Linked DNA regions of Homo sapiens. The protein of the gene in region 1 interacts with the protein of each later gene in a biochemical or structural test. Each region holds a gene or a part of one and is shown on either strand. Other genes may lie near its edges. The genes, in order: CDH2, PTPN12, PTPRC and GNA13.

Region 1 (4,725 bases):
ATGTCTACAGCTATTAGAATATTGGCAGATAGTGAACAAACCAGAAAAGCCATAGAAGAAAAATGTAATGAGTAGGCAAGAAGAAAGCCTGCATTTTAGAAAGCTCTTGCATTTGCATGGCTGTTTTTAAATGCTATTTCCGAGACGTTAAGAAATGTATTCTTCTGATCTTATGGTCAAAAAGGAACCAAACAAAACAGTTGCATGCTAGAAGCCAAGGGGATGTTCTTCAAGAATAATAAATGCGTAGCTATAATGGAAAAGCCTGTTAAAGTGAACATCCCTTCCTTTTAGCCACCCAGTAAAGAGATTTACTTCTTTGCCTCCCACTTAAGCACTCTTGATTTGTAAGTGAACCTAAATATTGACCTTACATAGAAAGATGTGCTAAAGTGCCAGTTGCCAATAATTATGCAGATGCGGGAGTAGAATAGAATGGGAATGGAAACTCTCAGAAGGAACATAGTGATCAAAAGCACCAACTTGAGTCTGCTGTCTGTGTTAGAGTCCCAGCTCTGCTCCTGATATCTGTGTGATCATGGCCAACTATTTAACCACTGTAAATTCTAGGTTTCTTATGCAGAAAGGGGCTGATAACAGTATGTTAGTCATAGTGTTCTGAGAGATAAATGAGCTTCATACACATTAAAGGACTTTGAACTGTGCATATACCCCTTAGCATAAATGTTACATCAGGGGAAGGTTTCGTGTGGCTAGTGAAATCACTCTAAATATTGCAGTCTTAACTTTCTGGCTTTTTTTCTGTCTTGCTTAAAATACTAGAGAAAGGAATGTTGAATTGGGGATTTAGAGAGAAAAAAAGATGTGTTTGAAGATTTTTAAAAGGTGGTCTAGGGTACGAAACTGGTGCAGTTTCTGCTGATAATGAAGCTTTCTTATGAGCGTCACCTCTCGATCATTCTTAGGCTACCAATTATGAGCCTAAGAGATCTTAATGCTCTTGTTTTTCCTGTTATTACTGCACAGTAATGCTTATTTGCACATCCATTCGCAGGTGAACAAGGAAAATTAAGAGTGAATGTCCAGTCTAGTCATTTGACTCCTGGTAATATTTCTAGTGACAGCAAGATTCAGTGAACTTTGGAAGTTAGTATTTACATGAAGGGTTATTTGTGCATTGCATTTATCTAGAGTGTTTTTCTTAAATTTGGGGGTTTTACAGACCAATAAAATATCCAGAAATATTCCAGAAGACAGCAGAGTTTTAGTTTGCTAAGAGGAAAAGAAAAATATCTTCCACCTACCAACAGTATTATTTTTAAAAGGTGTGTGTGCGATTATGTATACATGTTTGTACTGCAAAATGTGTACTTCAAATTATGAAAGGTACTTTTAAATCAAATAAGTTTAGCTGTATTTAAAAATTACATTTTCTGATTTTTGGTTTGTTTTCTTCAATTCATCATAGACTGGTGAAAGCTTTCCTGGGTGAGGAGTGATCTTTGTACTAATGTTTGAGAGTATACATTTAGACCATCATGTTCTCACTTGACTTTATATTATTTAGTATTTTTAGTCAACAATGCTATTCTTAAGAATAATCAAGTTTTTAGATGTACCTAAATAAATAAATCTGTGCAGTAATCATGTGCACTGTTTTGTGAACATAAATCTTTTAAGTACTCAAGATTTATAATTAGGTTAAATTGGGATAAATATTTTGATAAGTGACCATGCTAATGCATGTTTTCCAGAAACTTGAGAGGAACCTTGTTATGTAGTGAATGAAGAAATTAATTTTTTGGAAATGGAGTTGATAGAGGAATAAACTACAGAATGCAAGCATTCTTATTTCCTGCAAAAATATGGCTTCCCTTTTATTTTCCAGCCAATCGACTTTGAAACAAATAGGATGTTTGTCCTTACTGTTGCTGCAGAAAATCAAGTGCCATTAGCCAAGGGAATTCAGCACCCCCCTCAGTCAACTGCAACCGTGTCTGTTACAGTTATTGACGTAAATGAAAACCCTTATTTTGCCCCCAATCCTAAGATCATTCGCCAAGAAGAAGGGCTTCATGCCGGTACCATGTTGACAACATTCACTGCTCAGGACCCAGATCGATATATGCAGCAAAATATTAGGTATGAAATGCTGTTTGTAGTGTTTTTGTAGCTTACTTATGTTCTATGCTGTGCATAAAATTTATCTAATTCACTATTTGAGTAGAAATTTTCATTGCAATCAAAACTACTTATTAAAAGATAATTTAAAATTCTTTGAATTTTCTTCTCAGTAAGTCAATGACTATATTAGATATAAATAGATATCTGTATCCATATTAAAATGGATTTACTATTTGAAGAAAAAGCTGTTCTTGTTTCTCTGTATCTGCCATTTTTACTTAAAAAATACTTTAAAATTATTTAGCCTGTGCCTTTATGCCAAACATCACAAAAAGGTTCCGCAGGGAACTTTCAGAGGCTTATAACATTTATCTCTCCTCCATGCATCATGAAGGAAAGAAAGCTTATGCCAAAACCAGGATCTAAGAGTTAATTATTTTCATTCCTTACCTGTACAGTAGTTATTGGACTTATGAAACCTATCTGTAAAGATTTCCAAACTCAGCAAAATGTAATTTATCCTTTCTGATGAGGGAGTGGATGGTTGCCAGAGCACACCCCATGCGACTGTTCTCCAAAGCTGGTGATGATCATTTTTAAAATGAACTTATATTTCATTAAACTTCTTACAGAACTGCTGCTAAAAGATAACTTTCTATTGTTATCTTTTATTAAATGTTAAATGTTCTCCATTTCTCTATTCACTGAAATCAAGATAACTATTAATAAATAGCCAGTTAATAGATGTATTGAAATCCTACAACTTGTACCTTTCCAAACATAGCATACCTTTTCCAATCCAACTGGTTATCTAATCTTTAAAAGTTAATCCCCACTCCAAATTTTAAAAAGGAATTTAAGCTGATAAATCTGCCAATTCAGACTCAAGACTGTAGGACTTTCTTTGCAAAGGTATAGATCTGAGGCTTGGCCCAGTGTGAAAGATTCAAGTAGGAATGGGATTATGGTGGTCTCTCCAGTGTGGCTTCATGTTGGCCATGATAAAGTGTTAAAATGTTTTAGGAGTGTTCTGTGATGCAGTATTCAATTTCTATTATAATTTCTCTTAACTCCTGTACATTGAGACTACTGCTTATCTAGAAACTATATTCAAGCTATTTTACCTGAACCATTGATATCTGTTGAAGTGGACAAGAACCTAAAATGATAACTTTCCAATCTGCTTTAGCCCACATTAGGGAGACTGTGCACCTAGTCTTGTCCCTCAGACACCTGTAGAATGTTTCCTACATGCCTGACCAAACACAACCTTTATGTGCCTCCCAATACCACTGTCACAAAAATACTTTTTCCTGTTAAAGCTGTATGTCCAGCCATCATCTACAGAAATGCAAGTTAATGAGCCAGTTGCATTTGGAACTAAACCTGTAAAATATGTTTTTTTAAAGTTTCATAAAAAGAAATTAAACTTCACTTTCATTTTGTAGATACACTAAATTATCTGATCCTGCCAATTGGCTAAAAATAGATCCTGTGAATGGACAAATAACTACAATTGCTGTTTTGGACCGAGAATCACCAAATGTGAAAAACAATATATATAATGCTACTTTCCTTGCTTCTGACAATGGTATGTTCGCTGTTTTTTCTTGTATGTTGATGAAAGACAGTAGATCCTCATCATGCATGCTCAGGAATTAAAGTTTTCTACAAAACTCAATTGCCTGGAAAACTGACTTTTATAATTCCGAGGTCCAGCTTTTATTTATCATTTCAGACAGGTGTTCTGGAACATCCTTCACTGTCTTTGCAATGACTGTTCTCGATGTCCATCCATCGTTCATGTAGACATACCTTTGTTATCTTATTGTCCTGTCACATGTTGATGCCTTAAGTCCATCCTCAGTGGCCCTAGACACTGGGTTTTTTCAGTGGCTCTTTTTATATGTCTTCTAGTCACTCTGTTGCCTTTCATATGTGCATCTCTATCAGTCTTCCTTTTTATAATTCTCTGCCTCTGTCTGCCATGGGCTAGGAAACTTAATTTTGTGCATAAATTGAGATAAGTGAGTAGTGAGCTTCAGGGTATGGGTTTTAGAATACATATGTAGCACCTTTTTTTCCTTTCTGAGTCTCTGCTGGTTTCTCATTGGTTAAGATTAATAGATAAGGACTTTTTTCAGATATGTAATATAAAGGGGACTTTTGTAAACCTGATGAGGGGCTTATTTTGCTTCGTTAGCTCTCAGTACGATGTGTGTTTCAGACTTCAAGCTCTGGAGTTCTACAGGACCCCCAGGTGCAGACTCCGGCTTTCCCACTTTGAATCTGTGGGATTGCCATGAGGTTTTAAATATATCTGTTTCCTTTTTTTGTTAAATAGATACGTATCAGCACCTAACTCAGTGTTTTAACTAAAATGTAATGACTTCTACATATATATGAAGCATTTGAAACAGTGGCTGACACGAACTAACCACTCAACTAAGTATTCCTATTGCGTATTAATAGTTTCAAAACTGAACCACAACTATATTTTAAAATATTTTCAGTATTAAACTATGAATATGAATGTTGGTACTTAATAAAAAATAGCAGGCTTCAATTTGGTGGTTGAAGTTGGTGTTTGCAATTTTCAAATTGTAAAATATTTTGCATTACTAAAATAAGACATATCAA
Region 2 (4,725 bases), on another chromosome or scaffold:
TATAATTATTACCCTGTTTTACTGGTTTACAATTTGTTAAAGAAAAGTCACTATCAAAGCTAAGTCTTCATTTAGATATATATTGTTTTTAGTTGAAACCCCCCACAGCGCCCCGACTTTTTTTTTTTTTTTTTTGGCAACAGGGTCTCACTATATATTGCCCAGGCTGGACTCAAACTCCTGAGCTCAAGCAGTCCTCCCATCTCCACCTTCCTAGTATCTGAGACTATAGGGATGAGCCACCAAACCCAGCTAAATTTTTTATAGTTTATAGAGATGAAGTCTTGCCATGTTGCTCAGGCTGCTGTCAAATTCCTGGCCTTGAGTGATCTTGCCTTTTGCATTGGCCACCCAAAGTGTTGGGATTACAGATGTGAGCCACTGAATCTGGACTGGTTGCTAATTTTTTAATCTACGGTAATAATAATAAGTACCTTAATGAATTTCTGTGGTAGATCAGGCATCTTAATTCTGCTAACTGCATCATATCCAGATACTGTTACGTCTGTTGCACATAGATGAAGATACAGAAGCTTTAAGAAGTTAAATAGCTTACCTGAAGTTATTTAGGAAATGGCCAAAGTAGGAATTTGAGTATGGTTTGCTTAGATTCCGAGTATTGCTCTTTCTGTTAAACACCTGCAATAACCATTCTCAAAACATTTGACATCAGTACTCCTTTACATTCTTCAAAGTTATTGAGGATCCCAAAGTTTTTGTTTCTGGGGGTTGTATCTTTCAGTATATACTATATTTGAAATTAAAACTGAGAAATTTTTAAAAAACATGAATACATAAGCATATATTGTATTGGCTGTTAAAGAATAAGGCACGTAACATTTTAGTATTATTCTGAGAATTATTTAAAGCTCATAGACTCCCTCAAAAGGGTTGAGGGGAGGGGGTACCCAGACCGTATATTGAGAACCACTAATCTGTAAGAAGACTAGTGAGTTTGGCATTGGACAAATTCATCTCTCCATTCTTTTTCAGTTTAATGTTCTGTTAGTCTTCTGATTACAATGAATACTACTCTAACCTACTCTAACATGGTGCTTACGGTATATTGCTCATCCATTTAATAGTGTAGATTAGTTAAATAGTATATATAGTGTTATGTTTACAGTACATGCTCTGGAAGTAGAACTGCCTGGTTTAGAGCCCACACTTGTCACTTCTTAGGAAAGTTTGGGCAAGTTATTTTATCTGTATATCTCAGTTATAAAATGAGGATGGTATTAACAGTACTTTCCTCATGGAAATTAAATTGTTACATGTGAAGCCCTTAGGTATTTGGCATGTGTTTAACAGTCAATAAGTGTTGGCTATTATTTATTTGGGTTTTTTTAAAAGCAGTGCTAAATGCCACACAAATTTCTTAGAAATGGCAGTTTAAATGAGCTGTGCAACTTTAAACTTTGCAAAGTATTTTCATAATTGTTGACTTTCTGTTTTTCTTGAAGGAATCTCGTAGGCTGTATCAGTTTCATTATGTGAACTGGCCAGACCATGATGTTCCTTCATCATTTGATTCTATTCTGGACATGATAAGCTTAATGAGGAAATATCAAGAACATGAAGATGTTCCTATTTGTATTCATTGCAGGTACAAAAGAATTTCCCAAGTTTATAAATACATTATTTAAGTTTGATGTTACACAAGGTTTTATTTCTGCATTAATATGTTAGTAATCTTGAATTTCTCCTAGCCTTGATACAATGTTTGGGACTAGGGCCTTGTAAGTTGATGTGGTCTCATTTGGTTGACAGACCGTTTAGAGTATTGTTGCATTAAAACACAGGATCATCTATTTGAAAATAGTATTCACATGGTGGGAAGCTATAGAACATACTCTTTTTACTGTTCACTGATTAGAGCATATAATCTCAGATCCTCATCATACTCTACTTTCTAAAGTCAGTATGGTAGTATTTTCTTTTAATCAATTTCCCTGAAACAATGACCAAGCAATTTTCATTCCTGATAAACACTGACATGAGATTTTTAAAAACAGGATATTGCTCTGATGCCCAGGTTGGAGTGCAGTGGCACAATCATAGCTTACTGTAAACTCAAACTCCTGGCCTGACGTGATCCTTCTGCCTCAGCTTCCCAAGTAGCTAGGACTACAGGCATGTGCTACCACACTGAACTAATTTTTTTTAATTAAAAAAAATTTTTTTTAAGAGACCAAGTCTTGCTCTGTTGCCCAGGCTGATCCGAACTCCTGTCCTCAAGTGATTCTCCCACTTTGCTCTCCCAGAGTCTTGGGCTTACAGGCGTGAGCCACTACGCCTGGCAACATGACTTTCTTTTTTTAATATATGTAAGATGTACATACGTAGGTCTTATTGATCTAAGATATCATCAATTCTAAGACACACCATTATTATATATATTAACAGTAAAAAAATCACTGCCAATTATAAGGGGACAATGTCATTTGTAAGAAGCCATTGGTGGTAAGATACATACCAATCTCAGAGCTGTTACATTGAGATGAAAAAGTGTGTTTTAGTTTGATGAAAAACTAAATGCTGTTTTTATTCTTGGGGAACATCAGTTTCCACGTTTGCACCACTTCCTGTCATATCATGAAATTTTATAATTTATAGCTACTGAAAAATTTAAAGCCGGAAGCAAGCATTCTTGTAGTAAAGTAATAAAAACTATTGATACACATTTACTAGACATTTTTATTATGTTTTATAGTAGATTACTTCATTATAAGGATTACATAAAATTCAATGATTACTGACCTAGTTAAGCTACCTCTGAATGTGAAAGGACAAGTATAGGTGCACCTACTTTAAATTGCACAATATAAATCTTTTCATTTATTCAAATAATATTTGAAGTTCAGTTAGGTTTTGCAAAATTACTCGTTTGGATGTGTTAAGAAATCATGTAAACTCTTCCTTTGACTTTGGGGGAATGAACATGAGATTTGTTTATTCTTGGGGGGCAGTTAATTTTGTATTCTAGAAGGGGGGTTAATGTATAATATATTTTAGCTAAGAGAAATCAGTTTAAGATAACCAACTTTTCTTAATCTAACATTTTGGCTTATTTCTGTCATCTGGTCATTCTCATACAAATAATACAAAGCTAAATATACATAATACATATGCACATATATGTATATGTATACATTATATGTAATACATAAAACAAAGCTAAATTTGTATTATGGATTTAGGAGTGTAATGGAAAATACCCCTTTAAGAGGAAAAGCACAAAACTGAATTAGTCAAGAAAATAATAAATGTTTGCAATAAGTGTCATGACCGGGTATAGTGGCTCAGTGCTTTGGGAGGCCGAGGCAGGATGATTGCTTGAGCCCAGAACTTTGAGGCTGCAGTAGACACCAATTACACTACTGCACTCCAGCCTGGGTGACATAGTAGACCCTATCTTTTAAAAAAAAAAAAAGAATATAGGTATCATTATAATATGGGTGATACAGGATATTTTGAAACCTAATTTTTGGAATTTCATTATATAGGTATGGGTTTCTACATAGTAGAAGCTACTTGAATCCTTAGACAGTTTTTCTACTCTGAATTTTTAGTTTACATTAGATTCTTCTAAAGGCCTTACAGTCATAGTACTTACTTCATAAGACTGCTATCAATTTATTCCTCTAAGGGACTTGTTATCTGCATTCACATTTGTTATAAAAAGTAAATGAGATTTTTCAAACTTAAGAGATTTATTTTTTATTATTTACATAGTTAAAATATTTTTTCAGTGGAGTTGAAGCATTGAAGATAGTTTTCTTATTCACTTGGTTTGACCGTAATGCTCATAATTAACGAAGTAAAAGGGCTACTTTTTATTCATGGGCCAGGAAAGTAACTTGCTGGTGGAGATGTGGGAATCAGTTAACAACTTGGTTCATTAAAACTATTTTTTTCTGTGGTTAATTCAGTGGTTAGTTGACCATTTAATTAAGTAGGATTGACCAGTTAAAAATAAACAATATGTTTAATTATAGAATTAAAAGATAAAGAAATTGCTTTCACTTTGACTTCTTATAAGTTAGTTAAAATAATTTCCTGTTCAATCATAAATCCATTTGTATAGGAAGGCTTTTCATCAAAAACTAAATTGACCGTTAAATATTTTTAGACAATCAAAACAGTACGTTAACTGTAAGGACTTAGAAAACACATCCATAAAAGCAAGAAAATTCTTTTGCTTTCCACTAGTTCCACTGGAGATAACCATTGTTAAAACTCGAGAATGTGTCCTTTCAGTGTGTGTATGTGTACATACAGTATTGTTTTGTTTTATTTTGTTTGACGGAGTTTTGCTCTTGTTGCCCAGGCTGGAGTGCAGTGGCACAATCTCGGCTCACTGCAACCTCCGCCTCAACTATTTTAAACAGCAGTTTAAATGCTTAGTGGCCACTCTGTTTTTTTGTTTTTAATTTACTTTAATGGCCATCTTATTGTTAAATCTTTGAGCACATCTGCAGTTATTAGGACAAAGTTATTATTGGATAAATATCCAGAAGTGAGATTTGTTGGTCAAGGACATAAACTTTTAAAGTATTTTAATGAGTATTTTTTAATGTGTTATCCAGAAAATTGATGCTACTTAATTCTGCCACTGGCAGTATGTGAGAGTACCTATTTCCCTATACCTTCCCCAATACTGTGTGTTATCTTTTTGTTTGCTTTTTTTTTTTTTTTTTTTTTTTGAGACAGAGTCTTGCACTG
Region 3 (4,725 bases), on another chromosome or scaffold:
CGCCTCAGCCTCCCTAGTAGCTGGGACTACAGGCGCCCGCCACCACGCCCGGCTAATTTTTTTGTATTTTTAGTAGAGACGGGGTTTCACTGTGTTAGCCAGGATAGTCTGGATCTCCTGATCTCGTGTGATCCGATCCGCCCGCCTCGGCCTCCCAAAGTGTGTTTGTTTATTTTTCCTCACATTTTTAGCTTAAGATATTTTGGAGAACTGCAGTTTTATCTCGTTAACTTAATGATGGCAAGTGACAGTGAAGCTTCTTGGTAATTGGGGAATTGGGGAAGAGATCTTTTGTGCTTTATTGGATTTAAAGGATTATTTTTCAAAAGTTACTGAAAGCAATAGGCACCTTTCAAGACCACCATGATGTTGCTGGAAATTATTTTGTGTAATGCCTTTTATTTTTTTAAGAAAAAAAAAACAGAACAAATTGCTTAATCTCTCTGTGGCTCAGTTTTGTCATCTGTAAAATCAGATGATAGTGAGTACCAACTAATAGTTGCAGTGATGGTTAAATTAATTATTTCATGTATACCCCTTGAAACAGTGCTTGGCACATACAGTGAGTTATTATTTTTAAAAATCGTTATTGATATTATTATTACTGTTGCTGCTATCCAGAAACATGTTGCCACTCTAATCATCCTCTTTCCTGATGTCACTTGGCTACTCAAAAATAGCAGCAGCTGGTGATTTTTTTACTTAACAAGTGCTAAGTCTTCTGCCTGAGTGTGAAAACACACTTAGACACTGTCCTACCTCTCATATGCCTCCCCAGCCAGAGCTGTTGTCCTGATCAGGTTTGTCACTAAACTCAAAAACATTCCTTCTTCCGTTTGTAATATTTTCTTTTCTCCCTTACATGTATTCAGTTCCACTTACCTTTCAATGAACAGCTGAATTCCACTTCCGGCATGAAACTCCCTCATTCTCACAGCTCCCGTTAATTACTGTAGTGTCCAAATTACTATGATAGAATCAACCCAATGACTGATGATCAAATGGATTCTGCATCTAACATTCAAAACAGTAGCTAATACCGATGTTCAAAGTTTGGAGGTTACATATCAGAAAAGGTTTTCTAAAAAAGAATCATTCTGAAACATGCAACTCAAGACTTACAGTATACACTGGGGGCTGTGTTTTCTCAGAAACAAAAGAGATCGTCTTCACAAATGAATCTGAACTTATTAAATATTTTATGTACCAAATTAATGATATAAAACCATAATTTTTCAATATTTAATTTTACCAATGATAATTGAGTTTGTTCAATACACTGGCTGATAATTGTAGGTACTTTTGAGTATCAAGGATGTACTTATTTTTCAATCACTCAATAGTTTGGAGTTCACTTGGAACAATGTGATGTAGAGACCAAATTAATTAGGTACGTGGTAGTACTGACTTTTAACGACTTACTAATTTTTTTTCACATTTTTCCTCAGAAAAAGATTGCCTCAATCTGGATAAAAACCTGATCAAATATGATTTGCAAAATTTAAAACCTTATACGAAATATGTTTTATCATTACATGCCTACATCATTGCAAAAGTGCAACGTAATGGAAGTGCTGCAATGTGTCATTTCACAACTAAAAGTGCTCGTAAGTTATATGTTTTAATGCTTCTTTCCATAAATGGTAAAAAGCAAGGTATGAACTTTTTAGCCTACAATATTTCTATCTTTATTCTAGCAAGCACATTTACCTGGCACATTTGTTAACATCTAGGGCTTATAAACACGTAAAATCTAAAAGTTTAAAAACCGTTATCCTGGATTCTCTCTCTTCTTCAGATATAGTCATAGAATTTTAAGGACAAAGCATAAAAGCATCTTAATTGGCATCAGTTTGTGCAATTTCATGCAGTTAAGTACTTAACCAACTTAGATTAAAACATTCACTGTTTGCTGTTGTCTTTACTATCTGGAAATATTAATTGTAATCAGAAACCTAACAATGTCTCATAAAGCATTAGCCTACTAACCTCTGTTCATCTGATAAAACATTTCATAAAATGTAATATTTTATTAGCATTTTCTTCTCTTCGTTACCCTCAACTACTTACTATTCTATTTTATGTCACATTATCCATTTAAGGTTTCCTTTCAATGGCATTTGGCTCTTGCCACTAGTATAATCTCTCCATAGTTTCCAGGCCCAAAGTTAGATCTGCTTCTGGGGCACATGTTAACCTCCATCGAGGACAGGGAAGAAGAAATGCCGTGTTTTAAGGCAGCATCTATAGCTCCAGAGACCCTAACGGGCACTAGACTTGTGAAGAAATATTGTGCTATTTGGGGCTGAATATAAGACACTTTTAAGGTCATTTAGGTTTTGGTTTGAAAAGTTCTGGTCCTGGAGCTCTATGCTTTTGTTGTTTTCCTGAGTTTCTGTATCACAGAAAAAGAAGACAATTTGTTTCTGTTCCTGAAGAACCCATCTAGGTGTTTACCAGGATAACATTAGCACTCCGGGAAAGAAGGGTCTAGATTGTGTAATAGGACTTGGAGGTTTCCCAATCAACAACATTTTTCCTCTCCTCTCCCCAAACTTCCCCCTCTTCCCCACTCCCTTCCCTTTTTCTCTATTCTCTAATTCTACACAGTCTCCTTCAGGGATTGCAATAACTCTCATGGCTTCATGTACAACCTATATGCTAATACTTACTGAATAAATGAGTGATTTATTCTTCAGGGTTTTGATATTGTTTTTTAATTTATGTACTATCATAACTTCCTTATTTATAACCCCCAAGCTAACACTTAAAATACTTTATACTATATCCAAGTATTGTCAAGTAATTTACATATGCATCTATTAAATTATTAATAACAAATCTTTCTTCATTTTGATAGCTCCAAGCCAGGTCTGGAACATGACTGTCTCCATGACATCAGATAATAGTATGCATGTCAAGTGTAGGCCTCCCAGGGACCGTAATGGCCCCCATGAACGTTACCATTTGGAAGTTGAAGCTGGAAATACTCTGGTTAGAAATGAGTCGCATAAGAATTGCGATTTCCGTGTAAAAGATCTTCAATATTCAACAGACTACACTTTTAAGGTAAAAGTATGCTCTCTACATTACTATAGTACCAACTACATTATAATGATTGATTCATAGTACTTAAATAACTTTAAGACCACTGCTCACATGAGATTGAGAAGCTCTGATGTGTAATGGAATCACACTTAAAGAGTCTCAAATATTTGACTCTAAAATTTTTATTCCTATAGCTCAAGTCAGTGGTTTAAAGCAAATGTTTCATTGGAATATTTTAGAACTTCAATATGACTTAATTATAGCTAAATTATTGCTTCTGTGTTAAGAAGCACAACACTTTATGCACAACAGATTATTACTTTACCAAATCTACCTTTTCTTTACTTTGGCTTTTTATCTTTATTAATGTGGAATTTTTCAATTGCAAAATTTCACAGGTACCTTGAGGTTAGGAAATATTTGAAATAAACACTAGACAATACTAGTGAGCATACAGAATTTAAAACACTCATTATCTCACTGTCTACTGATCGTATTTTGTACATGTAACTTCATAATATACACATTTATATGCACTTAACACGTATTATCAACATTCTGAGTACACAGTTTTCAAAATACAGTTTTAAAACTGTATTTTTAATATATCACTATATCACACACACCTTTCTATGTTAAATATTTAACTACTATGTAGTTTTTAATGCCTGTATAATATTCTATGTATGGCTTTATCACATTCTATTAACTATAACTATGTTGGTCTCTAATATAAACAACATTCCGATAACACACTTATTGGTAAAGCAAAATTTTTGAATGTCTTTAATAATTTATGTTTCATAAATTCCTAAAAATGCATTTATTGGGTCAAAATGTATTTTGAGGCTTTTTGGATATGTAACTTTTTTTTTCTATAAAATTTACCAAATTGCCCTGGTGTATCAGTGTATGAAATGACTGCTTCTTGAGAGGCTCACCAACACTGAATACGCCTTTCTTTTTCTTTATTTGGTGGTTGAAATATGGTATTGATATCTTTCTTTTAATGAAGTTTCTTTACTTATTGTTCTTTGTGTTATTCTTTGCCTCTTTTATCCAGTTTTCTCCGGAGAAATGCCTTGAATATTAATGATATTAAACTCTTTGTCACATGCGTAAAAATGTTATCAGTTTATAATTTGCCTTTTAGTTTTCTTCACAGCACTTTGTCTTACATAATTCCCCTTTTTATTTTTAAACAAATGTATCTGTCACTTTTATTCCTGTTAAATAGAAATTTCCATAGTTAATTTTTTAATATGATGTTGACAAACGGCCTCATATTCTTTTTTTGTTTTGTTTTGTTTTGTTTTGTTTGTTTGTTTTGTTGTTGTTTTTTGTTTTGAGAGGGAGTCCTGCTCTGTCACCCAGGCTGGAGTGTGGTGGCGTGATCTCGGCTCACTGCAACCTCCGCCTCCCGGGTTCAAATGATTCTCCTGCCTCAGCCTCCTGAGTAGCTGGGATTACAGGCACCTGCCACCACACCTGGCAAATTTTTGTATTTTCAGTAGAGATAGGTTTTCACCATGTTGGCCAGGCTGGTCTGGAACTCCTGACCTCAAGTAATCCGCCTGCCTCAGCCTCCCAAATTGTTGGGATTACAGGTGTGAGCCACCGTGCCCGGCCCATATTCTTTATCACTTAAAGAAGTGTTTTCATATTTATAAACTTTTT
Region 4 (4,725 bases), on another chromosome or scaffold:
CCACCAGGAATTTTTGGACGTCTCTTAAGCAGTGGGGATCCCCTTCAAATTCTAGGAAATAGTCTTTGATGCTCACAATTTGCACCTTCTCCTCAAGCAAGTCTGTCTTGTTTAAGAACAGAATTATGGAGACATTGCTGAAAACCCGGTTATTGACGATTGTTTCAAAAATGTTCAGAGACTCTGTAAGGCGATTGGTCAGTCGATCTTCCATAAGCACCTGGTCAAATTCACTTGAGGAAACAAGGAAAAGTATTGATGTCACACTGTCGAAACATTCAAACCAACGTTTCCTTTCTGATCTCTGACCACCTACATCAACCATTTTGAAAGGAACATTTTTTATTTCAAAGTCGTATTCATGGATGCCTTTGGTGGGTCTTCTGGCAAGCAGAATATCTTGTTGTGATGGAATATAATCCTGGAAAAGAAAAAACTTGTTTTATACCTATTAATCCCGAAGTAATGCGAATTTTTAATGGACTACTAACTGGACTAGTGAATAGATATGCAAACAAAATGATCTTTTAAGTGACATTTTCAGATAGATTATGCTTATTATAAAATGCCAAGACTGGTCAGACATGGTGGGTCATGCCTATAATCCCAGCACTTTGGGAGGCTGAGGCAGGAGGATCGCTTGCGAAGCCAGGAGTTTGAGAATATCCTGGGCAATATAGCAAGACCCACTTGTGCTCCCCACAACAAAAGCCAAGATACATTAAAATGTTAGCAGGACGGGTTCAAAATTTACTACAAATGGCCAGAATCTACTTGTTTTCATCCCTGCAATACTACTCAAAATTTAAGCTGAAGTCTTATCAATTGTTCTTACCCACCCTCACTGCTATATATCCACCTGCAATCTTACTCCCCACTATCAGCCACTCTTGGTTCTAGCCAGAGTGATCTTCCTGTCTGCGTATCTACCTTCTCCACACTGCTCCTTGCTCCTCTATTAAAAGCAATGGGGGCTGGGCGCGATGGCTCACGCTTGTAATTCCAGCACTTTGGGAGGCCGAGACGGGCAGATCACGAGGTCAGGAGATTGAGACCATCCTGGCTAACACAGTGAAACCCCATCTCTACTAAAAATACAAAAAAATTAGCCAGGTGTGGTGGCGGGCGCCTGTAGTCCCAGCTACTTGGGAGGCTGAGGCAGGAGAGTGGTGTGAACCCAGGAGGTGGAGCTTGCAGTGAGCTGAGATCATGCCACTGCACTCCAGCCTGGGTGACAGAGCAAGACTTTGTCTTAAAAAAAAAAAAAAAAAAAAAAAAGGCAATGGGATCTGATTCCAGTGCCAATTCACAAGGATCACTTCCCAGTTCCAAGTTCTGCCCACCTCTCTCTAACCTATTCTAAAAGTTCTTTTACTGTGCAACCCCACTCATGACTTAAAACTTCTATGTTTTCATTGCTGCTATATTACATGTGTGAAAAATCCTTTCTCTACTATAATTAATTTCTTACTTATTGACCCAAGAACTCAAACTAGTCACTTACTCTGAGTGTCAGCACCTCTGTCTGTGAAATGGAGGTGATCACACTTGGTCTATATACCTGGGAGGGAGGGTTGTTGCAAGGATCAAATGAGCTCTTCTCTGCACTCTTGGTCAGTGAACTCTAAGACCCTGAACAAACAGAAGCTGCTGGTCACACAAGTCTCTGGCTACTCTGTGATGGCACACTTCCTTATGCAATGTAACTGGTTCTTCCTTGTCAGTCTAGCATTTTTCCAAAACTACAACACAACTTTCTGGTAATACATGAACGGGACAGCTAATATTTATCATCAAGGTCAAAATATTTTAAAAATCAAGGCAGGATTTAAAACAATGCTGTTATTCACAATGCTGCACTTTATGCCTTTCTGAATAGTGTCATATGATTTTGAAATTTCATTACAAGAATACTCATTGTCTCAAAATGGTGCAATGGAATTAAGAATATATATATATACATATTTTTTTGAGATGGAGTCTTGCTCTGTTGCCCAGATTGGAGTGCAGTGGCGGAATCTCGGCTCACTGCAACCTGCGCCTCCCAGGTTCAAGCGATTCTGCTCCTCAGCCTCCCGAATAGCTGGGATTACAGGTGTGCACCACCACGGCCGGCTACTTCTTTGTATTTCTAGTAAAGACGGGGTTTCACCATTTTGGCCAGGCTGGTCTCGAACTCCTGACCTCAAGTGATCCTCCCGCCTCAGCCTCCCAATGTGCTCGGATTATAGGCGTGAGCCACTGCACCCGGCCAGAATTCAGAGTTTTTTAAAAGTAGGTGGGTTCTTAGTTACTGGCAACCAACAGCCATTCATTAAATAACTCTAGGACTCAAGTGTTAGCTTTTCCATGTTTTCTTCTAGCTTTGTTCAGATACACGCCTGCTTTATTTATAATCAGCATATGCACACAGCGTTCAGCCTACCTCTGCATTTTTGCTTAATATTTTGTGAACTGTTCCATATGCTGATACAATCATACCTCATTTTAAAAGACAAGAAAATACACCAAATGCATTAACGTGCTGTACTTTACATTAACATTCCCCTACTAGTGGTCATTAAGGTTGTTTCCAATTTTTAGCCATAATTAACAGAAATACTGCAATTAAAATTCTCATGCACATTTTTTTTTTCCTTTGGACTATTTCCTAAGATTAAAATAATCAGGGGTACGATTATGACGTTAAAGGTTACAAACATTTTAATGACTCTGGATACTTAACACCCGACTGCTTTCTAGAAGGCAATACCAATTTACAACATACACCTATGCCAGCTCCTTCAGAAACACGCCGGGCCCTGAGCTTTTAAAAAATGTAATTCCATAAAAATAAAAAGTTCTCTATTATTGTCTTTGTCTCTATTAAAGCTAATAATCTAGTTAGCAATCTAAAGGCTGCTTCACATGAAGCACAGAACTTCATGCAATCGAGTGCTAAATAGTCTGGCAGAGCAGAGTATGTTGATGAGGACACACACATACTAGCTGTGTGAAGAAGAAGAAACCTGCCTTATGAGGAGGCAAATGAAGCTGTGCTACATTTAGAGAGTAACAGATGACTCTAAGGCAATGGCTTTCAAAATTTTCCTAAGCAGCAGAAACCTTTCTCCCACTGAACTCTTCTGTGTACGCCCAATACAGAGGTCAAACAAGCGAGATGCTCTGCCTGCAGTGGGCCCCGCTGGCCACAGCGCCAGCTTAGAGCTGCTGGCTCCGAGGAATACCTACAGGAAAATGATAGACTCTCTTTTCAAGGGCGACTCCCCCTACCTCGTGGAGTCTCTTCAGCCTTTTAAATCTAGCCCTCCTACTCCGTGACTCGACACAAAGGGGGCATGAATTCGAAAATGTCATTTGTCAAAAGATTTGGAAATCAGTCAACCCACTGTGTTCTATTTCTGTTTACAAACAAAAACCTCTAAAGATACTAAAGTATAACAGATAATGCACAATATCATCTTCAAACACAAACTTCTTTCTCTAAACAGTTTTACTTCCAAGAAATAGCAGACAAAGCATTCCTCAAGAAAATGGTAGAGACCTGGACAGTTAGAGGGAGAAAAAAGAAGTGTCGTGATTAAACAATAAAAATACTTTCATTTTGAAAAAATAAAAATCATTCAATATTCTGAGCTACCAATCACTCTAAATAAAGCAGAGAAGAATCAGAACGCCACCACTAAAAAAAAAAAAAAAAAAAAAAAAAAAAAAAAAAAAAAAAAAAAAAAGAGAGAAAGAAGCAAATAGCTTAATACATAATTTTTCTAAATTTCCTAACATCGATATCCTGACTTCTGCTTTCAAATGGCACTAAACATAAACATTTGGTTTAAACACTTACTGGTTCTCCAAGTTTATCCAAGTTATCCAGGAAATATTTTACAGATTCACCCTAAAAACAAGAAGAAAACAAATAGTTATTAGGGCTTAGAAATGGAAGATCTTGTTACAACAGTTTACATCATACTGTCTGGTTGTACACTTAACCCAAACAGACTTTGTTTAGTCACCAATTTCAGACAGCTAACCTTCCTAAAAACATATAAAACGTCTGCTCTGTCACAGACTGCTAAATCTGCAAAGGCAGGCTGATTTCACAAATGCTTAATAGAATCAATATCCCAAGTGATCATCTGCTTGGACAGGATTACACGCATGCTTTTTGCTATAACTACGTATCCACAGTGAAGACATATAATTAGAAGATGAAAACTGCTTTTGAGATAAAACATAAATCTACATATAAAATTTAAGTGACAGTCTTTTTGTCTACATTTTCTAGCTTAATAGTGACGATAGTTATCTTCAGAGACAAACCAAACCAGAGATGAGGTAAGAATACTGTACAAAATCCCCCAACCACAGGCATGGACAGGCGTGCCTTGCTCAGGAAGGCCCTGGATAGTGCTGCCAGCTTCACATCTCCAACAGGTCTTTTCCCGAGTGGCCTATCCTTTCTGAGCCCAGTTTTCTCGACGAAACTTCCAAGCAATTTCAAACATCTAAACTGTACGAGAATACATTCCTAACATGAAAACGCTTGACCAGAGCACACAGAGAAGAGGGGAACTATTTTGGGAAAGAAGGGGTCTGTGTCCGAGTCTCCTAGTCCTCACCCCCTGCGTTTCACTTTCCCGCGGGATTCTACAGCTGCAGCATTGTCCCTGCCTGAAGCTACTTCCAAGTGTTCCTGAAGCAGCACCTCATTTAGTATGCCTGGGC

The links.
Region 2: of the proteins of CDH2 (region 1) and PTPN12, one has a biochemical effect on the other in vitro, tested with the Homo sapiens proteins (one large-scale study listed by IntAct).
Region 3: of the proteins of CDH2 (region 1) and PTPRC, one has a biochemical effect on the other in vitro, tested with the Homo sapiens proteins (one large-scale study listed by IntAct).
Region 4: the proteins of CDH2 (region 1) and GNA13 form a complex in vitro, tested with the Homo sapiens proteins (one study listed by BioGRID).

Annotation. Positions count from the first base shown.
Region 1 is NC_000018.10:27,987,475-27,992,199, reverse strand, and holds part of CDH2 (cadherin-2 isoform 1 preproprotein), read left to right. Parts: intron 1-1,849; coding exon 1,850-2,103; intron 2,104-3,533; coding exon 3,534-3,676; intron 3,677-4,725. UniProt on the Homo sapiens protein: Calcium-dependent cell adhesion protein; preferentially mediates homotypic cell-cell adhesion by dimerization with a CDH2 chain from another cell. Cadherins may thus contribute to the sorting of heterogeneous cell types.
Region 2 is NC_000007.14:77,599,201-77,603,925, forward strand, and holds part of PTPN12 (tyrosine-protein phosphatase non-receptor type 12), read left to right. Parts: intron 1-1,463; coding exon 1,464-1,606; intron 1,607-4,725. UniProt on the Homo sapiens protein: Dephosphorylates a range of proteins, and thereby regulates cellular signaling cascades. Dephosphorylates cellular tyrosine kinases, such as ERBB2 and PTK2B/PYK2, and thereby regulates signaling via ERBB2 and PTK2B/PYK2.
Region 3 is NC_000001.11:198,715,234-198,719,958, forward strand, and holds part of PTPRC (receptor-type tyrosine-protein phosphatase C isoform 1 precursor), read left to right. Parts: intron 1-1,448; coding exon 1,449-1,607; intron 1,608-2,860; coding exon 2,861-3,069; intron 3,070-4,725. UniProt on the Homo sapiens protein: Protein tyrosine-protein phosphatase required for T-cell activation through the antigen receptor. Acts as a positive regulator of T-cell coactivation upon binding to DPP4.
Region 4 is NC_000017.11:65,014,409-65,019,133, forward strand, and holds part of GNA13 (guanine nucleotide-binding protein subunit alpha-13), read right to left. Parts: intron 3,896-4,725; coding exon 3,845-3,895; intron 422-3,844; coding exon 1-421. UniProt on the Homo sapiens protein: Guanine nucleotide-binding proteins (G proteins) are involved as modulators or transducers in various transmembrane signaling systems.